Linked DNA regions of Homo sapiens: regions 1 and 3 are each linked to region 2. Evidence: fine-mapped expression QTL. A gene starts in region 2. Each other region holds a variant in brackets. All regions are shown on one strand. Distances are from middle to middle. Region 1 has its middle 16 kb from the start of UBE2L5. Region 2 holds the start of HMGB1 (high mobility group box 1). Region 3 holds the start of UBE2L5 (ubiquitin conjugating enzyme E2 L5).

Region 1 (2,754 bases), 27 kb before region 2:
TCAACAGTTCGACAACCAGTGTGGTACGGACAAAACAGACTGAGCCGCGACAGAACAGCAGCCTGAGTGATGATAGCTGTGCTCAGAAGCCAGCCTAGCCAGAGCTGGCAATTCAGGCAATTCACAGGATAAATCAAAAGCCACAGTCTGGGAGCCTAGAATCAGCAGAGAGGTGTCTGATGTGGATATTGTCGGAAAGCGTGTGCATTGTACAGCCAGCGTATGTCAGAAGAAACATGGTTCTAGTACGTTGCTTTTCAAACTCTACAGGGTGTAGGCAGAGATCATTAAGCAAACAGATGTCAGAAAGGACAGAAAGCTCCTTACCTGGTTCAGCTACCACCTCTCTGTAAAGAAGAGTGCATAAAACCCACACAGATAACCCACCTCTACCCACCCATAGAACATCCTCACTCTAGGAGCATGAAAATACCTAGAGGTTTTCAAGTCTCTCGACGGCCGTGTGAAAATTAGCCTAAAATCACATGTGCACAGGCTAAAGATGCAAACCATTTTCTCAAATGAGCACCACATCTTTTCAATTGTTCTGGAATTGGTGACACTACCATCATCCTCTTGATTCCTGTGGAATCTTCTTGGACCCTGACCTTAATGTCCATTTTGCCTGCCCCATGGTGACCCAGCCCCAGTGAGTGTTTTACCTCCAATGGCCGGGAAACCACAGAACACGCTGCCTAAAGCACCATTTATTTTTTATTGTTTGAGACAGGGTGTCACTGTGTTGCCCAGGCTGGAGTGCAGTGGCACGATCTCAGTTCACTGCAGCCTTCACCTCAGGCTCAAAGGATTCTCCCACCTAAGCCTCCTGAGTAGCTGGGACTATAGGCACACCACCACGCCTGGCTAATGTTTTTTTTTTTTATGTTTTGTAGAGATGAGGTTTTGGCATGTTGCTCAGGATGGTCTTGAACTTGTGGGCTCAAGCGATCAATCTGCCTTGGCCTCCCAAAGTTCTGGGACTACAGACATGAGCCACAGCACCTGGCTTTTTTTTTTTTTTTTTTTTTTTTTTTTGAGACAGGGTCTTGCTCTGTTGCCCAGGCTAGAGTACAGTGGTATGAACTCAGCTCACTACAGCCTTGAGCTCCTGGTCTCAGGCAATCTTCCCACCTCTGCCTCCCGACTACAGGTGTGAGCCACCACACCTGGCTAACTTATCACAGATATGAGCCACTGCACCTGGCCAAGCACCATTTTTGTCACTGTCAGTTTCCTGCTTGAGAAATTACAGTGGCTTCTGCATTACTTTAATAATTGTGTCCTCCTTATGACCCTTTGTAGTCTCCAAAGGCTGGGCTCCTCTTCTGTTGCTGAGCTAATCTATTTATTCTCCCCGCCTGCGCTTGGCTCATTCCTGGGCCCAAGCCTTACCACTTGCTACTCTTCCTCTAAATTTGGATTTCTTCCCCTCTCTTGTCCTCAAACCCACTGTCACTTTTGAATTTGAAGACATGTTGCTTTGCACGCCGCTCCTCTTTGGGGTACATCTGTGAGCACCTGCATGGCTAAGAGGGAGTGCTCAGTGAGAACCCAGTGAATGATGAAGGTGTATGTGAATGACGATTGGATGGGAGAGGCTGCCCAAGTGGAAAAGCGGTATTTGCTTTTCAGTACAGGAAAATTTCC[G/A]TGATATTTTTCTGGCACACAATAAAGAAAATGCTATATTGAAGCAAATTAATATATTTTAACTTTGTGTAGATGCAGTGGGAATTACTTTTTAAATGGTGTATGGAAATAAAAGAACTGGTTGAAAAGAACAATTTTTCAAATGAATGTGTCTAATGTCTCCCAACAGATAAGGAAGGGAATAGAAATTTGTGAAGAGGATCACACACCATCACTTTTACACACTCACTATGTGATTTCGCAGTAGAATTAGAAAAGTCAAATTTCATAGTCCAAATGTAGAAAATAGTAGGAATTAGGGCTGGGTGTGGTGGCTCACACCTGTAATACCAGCAATTTGGAAGGCCAAGGTGGGCGGATTGCTTGAGTCTGGGAGTTAGAGACCAGGCTGGGCAACATGGTGAAACCCTGTCTCTACAAAAAATATATAAAGTAGCTAGGTGTGGTGGCTGGCACCTGTAGTCCCAGCTACTTGGGAGGCTGAGACAGGAGAATCGCTTGAGCCTGGGAGGTCAAGCCTGCAGTGGGTGGTAATGGTGCCACTGCACTCCAGCTTGGGTGATAAAGTGAGACCCTGTCTCAAAAAAAAAAGAAAAGAAAATAGTAGGAATGGCTAATTGATGAATAGGTTAGTTCAAAAGAGAGCTCCTAACTGCCCACTGGCCGTACCCCAATTAAAGTAACTTCCAGAAATAATTCTTCTTCAAAAATACATTATCTATGCAAAGGATTCTTTATTAATAACATACATCAGGGTTTGGCAAACTATCTGTGGGCCAAATCCAGCCCGCCTCCAGTTTGGGTAACTGTAAGTTGCTTAGAGTACAGCCAGGCTCGCTCTTTTTGGATTGCCGATGGCTGCTTCCAACTACTATGGTGGAGCTGAGCAGTTGTGATAGAGACCCTACAACTCACAACACTGAAGACCTAAGTTGCAGACTGAAAATGAACCTTACAGGAAAGGTTTGCTGACCCTTGACCTACATGATCTAAGGATATAGTGCGTAATTTGTCTGGAAGTGCCATTAACTTGCTTTCTCCAGTGGGAATGTAGCATGGTTGGGTACATTAATCCTGAAATAAGTGAGAGATCCAGACCTCCTGTGT
Region 2 (2,754 bases):
CCGAGGCCGCCACGTGCGCCCGGCAGGCCCTGCAGGCCCGCGCCGCCGCCGCCCCCATTTTGTCAGGCTCGGCGCAGGGAGAAGCCCCGCTCGAAATGGGGGCTGGCTCCGCCCGCGGCCGCCGGGGCCGGCGCGCACGGAATGGCCGCTGCGCGTCTTCTCCGCCTGCGCCGCCGCCGCCGCGAGGGCGAGCGCGAGCGAGAATATGGCTCCTTCCCTTTGTGTGTGTGTGTGTGTGTGTGTGTGTATGAGAGAGTGTGTGAGTGCGAGGGTGCGGGCGCGGCGGCGGCGGCGGGCGGGGTGCGAGCCGCGCTCTGGCGCACACACTCGGCCATTACGGCCGGGGGAGGGGCGGGGGGCGCGCGGCCGGGCCCTCCCCTCCGCGCCGCTCCCCTCCCCCCGCCGCGGTGGGGGCCGCCCGAGGGCCCACCCGCCCGCCACTCCCCGTCTCCCTCCGCGCGGGCCGCGCGCCCCGCCGCCCCCGCACGGAGAACGCGGGGCTGTGAAAAGAGAGAGGAAAAAAAAAGTTGCCTCGGAACTGCTGCGCCCAGCTCCCCCGCCCGCCCGCCTTGTTTTCTCTCCAGCCAGCAGCGCCGGGCCCGAGTCAGCCATGTTCCAGCGAGCGCAGCGGCGCCGCTCCCCCCGCCGCCCGGCCGCCGCCGCCGCCGCGACCGGGCCGAGGCCGGCCGGGCCCGCACTGCCGCCCCCAGGCCCCCGCGCCGCCCTCGCCCGCCGCGGCGCCCCGCCCGCCCCGCCGCCCGCCCGGCTGGCCGCGCTCCCCGCCAGCGCCCGGCTCGCTGCGGCGGCGGCCAATGCAGCCCGGGGAAGCGCCGCCGCTGCCCTCCCGCCGCCGCCGCCGAGCCGCGCCGGCCCCGCCGCCCCGGCCGCGCTCCGCGCACGCCGCCCGCCCGAACGCCCGGCCCGAGGGCCCAAAACACGTTCAAAATTTTTTTAATTAAAAAAAAAATTTTTTTTTTTGCGCCAGTCAGCGCGGACGCCGCCGGGGGTGGAAACTCGCGGGGCGCGGGGCTCCCGGCGCCTCAGGCTGCCTGAGGGCCGGGGCACCGGCGCGGGGCAGCGTTCCCGGCGCCCGGGCAGAGGCTCGCTCCGTGCGCAGTTCCCCCCACGGTCCCCCCTCATTTGCCTTTGTGTGGATCCTGACCCGCCGGCTCCCGGCCGCGGGGATCCGGCCGCCGCGCGGGCTGGGGAGCTGCCGGAGGCGCTCTCCCCGCCGCGGCGCTGCCCCAGACTCACCCTCAGCGAGGCACAGAGTCGCCCAGTGCCCGTCCGGCTCTCACTTGCCCCGGTGCTGTCTCTATGGAGCTCAATGTACTGCAATGGCTGTGAGAGCGGGAGCCAGACGCAGCCTCCTCACTCTCTCCGCTCTGTAACATTACTCTCCAGCCAGCGCGGCTCCTATTGGCTACCGCCAACTCACGGGGCTCGCTCATTGGCCCGATACCTCCCATTGTCCTGACCAGAGCCCGTTTGCTATTGGCTGTCTCCGGGGACACGTCATCAAGGATTGAAACAGCGCGCAAATCTGAATGTGTGTGTATGCCGGGCAAAGAGGCTGAGGCGGGAGAGGCAGAGGCAGAGGCAGCAGCTGCTACGGGAAAGCAGAGCTCTATGGTGTATGTGTGCATGTGTCTAACCCAAGCCAGCCCCACACCGGAGCGGCCGCCGGAGCGAAAAGGGCCTGACTTTTCCACAAGTGTCTCCAACTCCTCAGGCAAAAGAGACACCCACAGGTCTCCCCCCCCCTTCTTGCCCCACATTCACGCCCAAAGCCGTTGAGATAAGAGGCCCCAGGCTTTTAATGGCCCTTCAAAAGTGAGGGCGACACTATGGGATCATGTCCCCTGAAAACTGGGGTCTCTGCTGGTGCTGAGGGGCGGAAGCCGCCGAGCCTCGAGCCCCTCAAAGGTCTCTGATTGCGTTACACTTTAGGTCTCTGGAAAGGCAGGGCTTCTATAAGAAAGTGACATGATCCAGCCAGCCGGGTTTAAAATACCCCTTTTCTGGGCTCATAAGCCGTCACGTCAGGCTCGCTGAGCAGCTGAAATCTTGAGTCAGTGAGCAGGCATTCAGTTTCACCCTTTTTCTTGGTTTGATCGAGTTTCACAGCATGTCTAGAACTTTTTATTTAAATACAAAGCACTGTCTTAACTTCCTGGAAATCAAATAATTATTCCATGTAATTAAAGAACAGCCACTTGGTTTGATATGGGGTACTCTAGCAGGAAATGTTTGTGAGGCCCTGGTAGAATTAGCAAATTCATTAGAGACCACATTCTAAACTGTTTGGCTATTTTATTTGACTTGGTGTGGATTACTGTTACAATCAAACGAATCCTTGTGATGCTATCTTTCCCTCCCATCACACCACTTAGTGCATCCATGTAACTGCTCTAGGATTACAGGAGTTGTAGGTATATGGTTACCCGAAGGATTAGATGCAGGCAGAGAGTGCATGTGCCCAAATCCACAGGCTGTGGTTTCTCTAACTCACCAAGCTGGCTGGTATTAATAGACATACTTACGTCTGTAGAGAAAATGTGCTGGCTGTAGTGGCCAGTTCTGAAGACTCTACAGTTATATCAGTCCTTTATGAAACTACTATCTATTCCTTTTAGCCTGAGCAGACCACGCCCCTATTCAGTTATAACAGACTTCCCTTTTTTTTCACTCTCTAATGGTATTTTGTACACTTCTAAATCCAACAACCAATTCCTCCAAATGTAACAGATCAAA
Region 3 (2,754 bases), 45 kb before region 2:
CTTCAATTGGTTGGCACCCTGAGGAGCCATAGATCCACTGTCCCCATGCCCCAAAGGAAGGCTTGGGTGTTGTGTGGTATAGTAAGCCTTTTGGTGGCTTCAGTTCTTACCCTAAAAAAAAAGGAGAAGGGATAACACGAGGAGACCCTCCTAGAGCTCCTATGGGATATTTAATTATCAATATGGCAGCTACACTAGGTTTAGAAATAAATGAACTATCAGATAGCACCCTAAGGTATTATCCCACCACATGGGCTCTTAAACACCGATTTTCTCTGTACTCTATTGGAACATGTGTAGACATTTGATTTGAAAACCAGGCTTCCCACTGACTTCCTTAGCAGGCTGGGATGTCAAATCTTTCTCTCACTTTTGGGGGGGATTAGGGTGTCTTCTGGGTTCGTATGAGTGTGTGGATGTTAAGCGGTAGTAAAAATAGCAACTGAAGCAAAAAAAAACATCCTTAGTGGGATCTCAAAACCGTTTAAAAAGAAACTATCGGAGGGGCCTAACAGTATCAGGTGTTTCATAGTTGCTGGGGAGAAGCAGCAAAGGGACACACATTCACGCTAGACTAAGAATGTCCCATCATCATTACTCCTGCACACCCACATCCTTAGGCTCCAGGTTAGGCCCCTTATAAAATATTGTGTGGGCCAGGAATCCCACGAATTCCCAGAAGAATGGGAATTTGGGGAATTGTTTTTAATCCCGTTGGATAGTCCAGTAACTCTGCACATGGATACCAGTCTTGGGCACAGGGAATTTCCCTAAAGAGCCACAAGGAGACTTGGGTTAACCAGAGACAACAGCTCCTCAAGTACCCACTGTGGAGGAAGTAGAGGAATTCAGAAACTCGGGCTAATGAACCGCCTCAGTAACGTCCTGAGGGGTAAAGCTCTGCTGTGTCCATGGTGAAATGTGAGTGTGAGAGAACTGTGGGAACATACATATCCACCTGCTGCAAGCCTACCTGCCCATCTTCGAAACGCGGTGCCCCTTCACTCTGCCCCAAAGCTGAACCCTTTTGTATTACGCCTCCCAAATACGAAGTTGTCCCATAGCATGAGTTTTGGAGTCCAAGGTTTGAGTCCTCGGTCGGCTGCAAAGAGCTGTGTGGTCATGGCCAAGTCACTTAGCCCATCCAGGTCTCAGTCTCCCGTGTGTAAAATGGGAGTAAGGAGGGCTCAATTGTTCTAAGGATTAAATGCAACCAAGTTGGCAAAGTTTTAGCACAGTGCCCACGTGTTAGCTGTTTATGGTGTGCCTGTTGTATGCCAGGCCTGCGCTGGAGACGCAGGCATTATGCTCCCTGCACATGGCCCATACCCACATCTCCTCTACACGCGCCCTCGCTGAGGCGCGGGTCCTACTGAAGATCCGGATAGTGATCATCCTTTCTGGCAGCATAAGTCCCGCCCCCTTTCCTTCCCTGGG[C/T]TTCTGTTGTCCAGGCTACCTTGGCGTTATCAAAGCTACTTGATCTTTACAGCCACTTCCCTCTGCACAGGCATCCAAATAGGAAATTCCGCTCTCAAGGAACCTTCTACCCATCCACCTGCCACCAGCACGAACCTGCTGTCTTGTTCTCTGGCCTCTCTCCCTCAGTCCCCTTTTGCGCCCTCATTTTCCTGTCTAAAATGAAACGGACCGCTGCCCTTTTTATCTGTACTAAGTTTCAGGAGCAGAATCTTCGTTAAACTGAGCAGAGCAAGAGCGCGCTGCCCACAGGGCTGGGGCGGGCGCACGGGCCCTTATGTAAGGCCGGGCCTTCCCGGGGAAGAGCGAAGGCTCCGGGAAGGGAAGCACGGGCGGCGGGGCCCGGCCTCGAGGACCGCCCCCAGGGCGGGGAGTGGTGTGAGCCGCGGCGCCGCCAGCAAACTTTCCTCCTCCGAATTCTTGACCGAGAGCCTTGGAACCACATTCTGCCCAAATCTGTACACGCCGGAGCCAGGGAGCCGCCCGCCGCCCGGGGAGCGGAGTGGGGAAAGAGGGGGTGGAGAAGGGACCGGGGAGGAGGTGGGGGAGGGCGGAGGAGGTGGTAAGGAGAGGAGCGGGGGGGAGGAGGAGGAAGGGGAGGAGGGAGAGGTGGGGCGGGGAGGAGGGAGAGGTGGGGCGGGGAGGAGGGAGAGGTGGGTCGGGAAGGAGGGGGAAGTGGGAGACCGGGGATGTGGGAGGGGAGAGAAGGAGGAGGTGGGAGAGGGGAAAGCGGGGAAAGGGGAAGGTGGGGCGGGCGGAGGTGGGGGTAGAAAGTGGGGAAGAGCGGGGATGGCAAGTTCCGCGGGTGGCGAGCGGCCCCAGGGAGCGGCGGGGGGGCGAAGCAAGTTCCTTAGTTTCTCCCAAGCCAGCCCGGGAGCTGTTGGACGAGTGGGAGCGCCTGGCTACCTGCAAGTCTTCGGGTTTCGCGAGCGCCGCAGAGCTTTTCTGCAGCCGCTAAATAAATAAATAACTACGGACGCCCGCCCCGCCCCGCCCCGCCCCGCCCCTCCCAGCCCAGCCCAGCCCAGCCCAGCCCAGCCCAGCCCCGCCCAGCGCAGCTCCCTGGCCGCGGCGGCGGTGGTGGCAGCGGTGGTGGCGGCTGCGGCGCAGGCAGGGCTGGGCGCTTGGGGAGCTCCGCGCGCGGGGCACTTCCCCGTGACCGGCGGCCGCGCAGCTCAGGGAACTCCGCTCCGTGAGGCTTCCGGGAGAGGGAAAGCTGTTCTCCTTTGATGCTCTTTGGTTTTACAGTGGAAAACTACAATTAAAAAAACATAGCCG

What was found. PIP is the estimated chance that this variant, and not a neighbour inherited with it, causes the effect.
Region 1: its variant is fine-mapped to the expression of HMGB1 in whole blood (TOPMed, PIP above 0.99).
Region 3: its variant is fine-mapped to the expression of HMGB1 in whole blood (TOPMed, PIP 0.99).

What each region holds. Positions count from the first base shown.
Region 1 is chr13:30,437,279-30,440,032 of GRCh38, forward strand. No RefSeq gene overlaps it. Among named protein-coding and RNA genes, the nearest start is that of UBE2L5, 16 kb to the left of the region's middle. The variant G/A (reference allele first, on the strand shown) is at 1,648.
Region 2 is chr13:30,464,542-30,467,295 of GRCh38, forward strand. It overlaps HMGB1 (high mobility group box 1), which reads right to left and starts at 1,395. Exons shown (of 5, transcript NM_002128.7): 1 at 1,255-1,395. RefSeq lists silencers at 1-458, 1,058-1,367 and enhancers at 803-1,578, 1,579-2,354.
Region 3 is chr13:30,419,835-30,422,588 of GRCh38, forward strand. It overlaps UBE2L5 (ubiquitin conjugating enzyme E2 L5), which reads left to right and starts at 2,659. Exons shown (of 4, transcript NM_001355247.2): 1 at 2,659-2,754. It overlaps LINC01058 (long intergenic non-protein coding RNA 1058), which reads right to left and starts at 2,410. Exons shown (of 2, transcript NR_125771.1): 1 at 2,383-2,410; 2 at 1-111. RefSeq lists silencers at 1,712-1,891, 2,332-2,621. The variant C/T (reference allele first, on the strand shown) is at 1,438.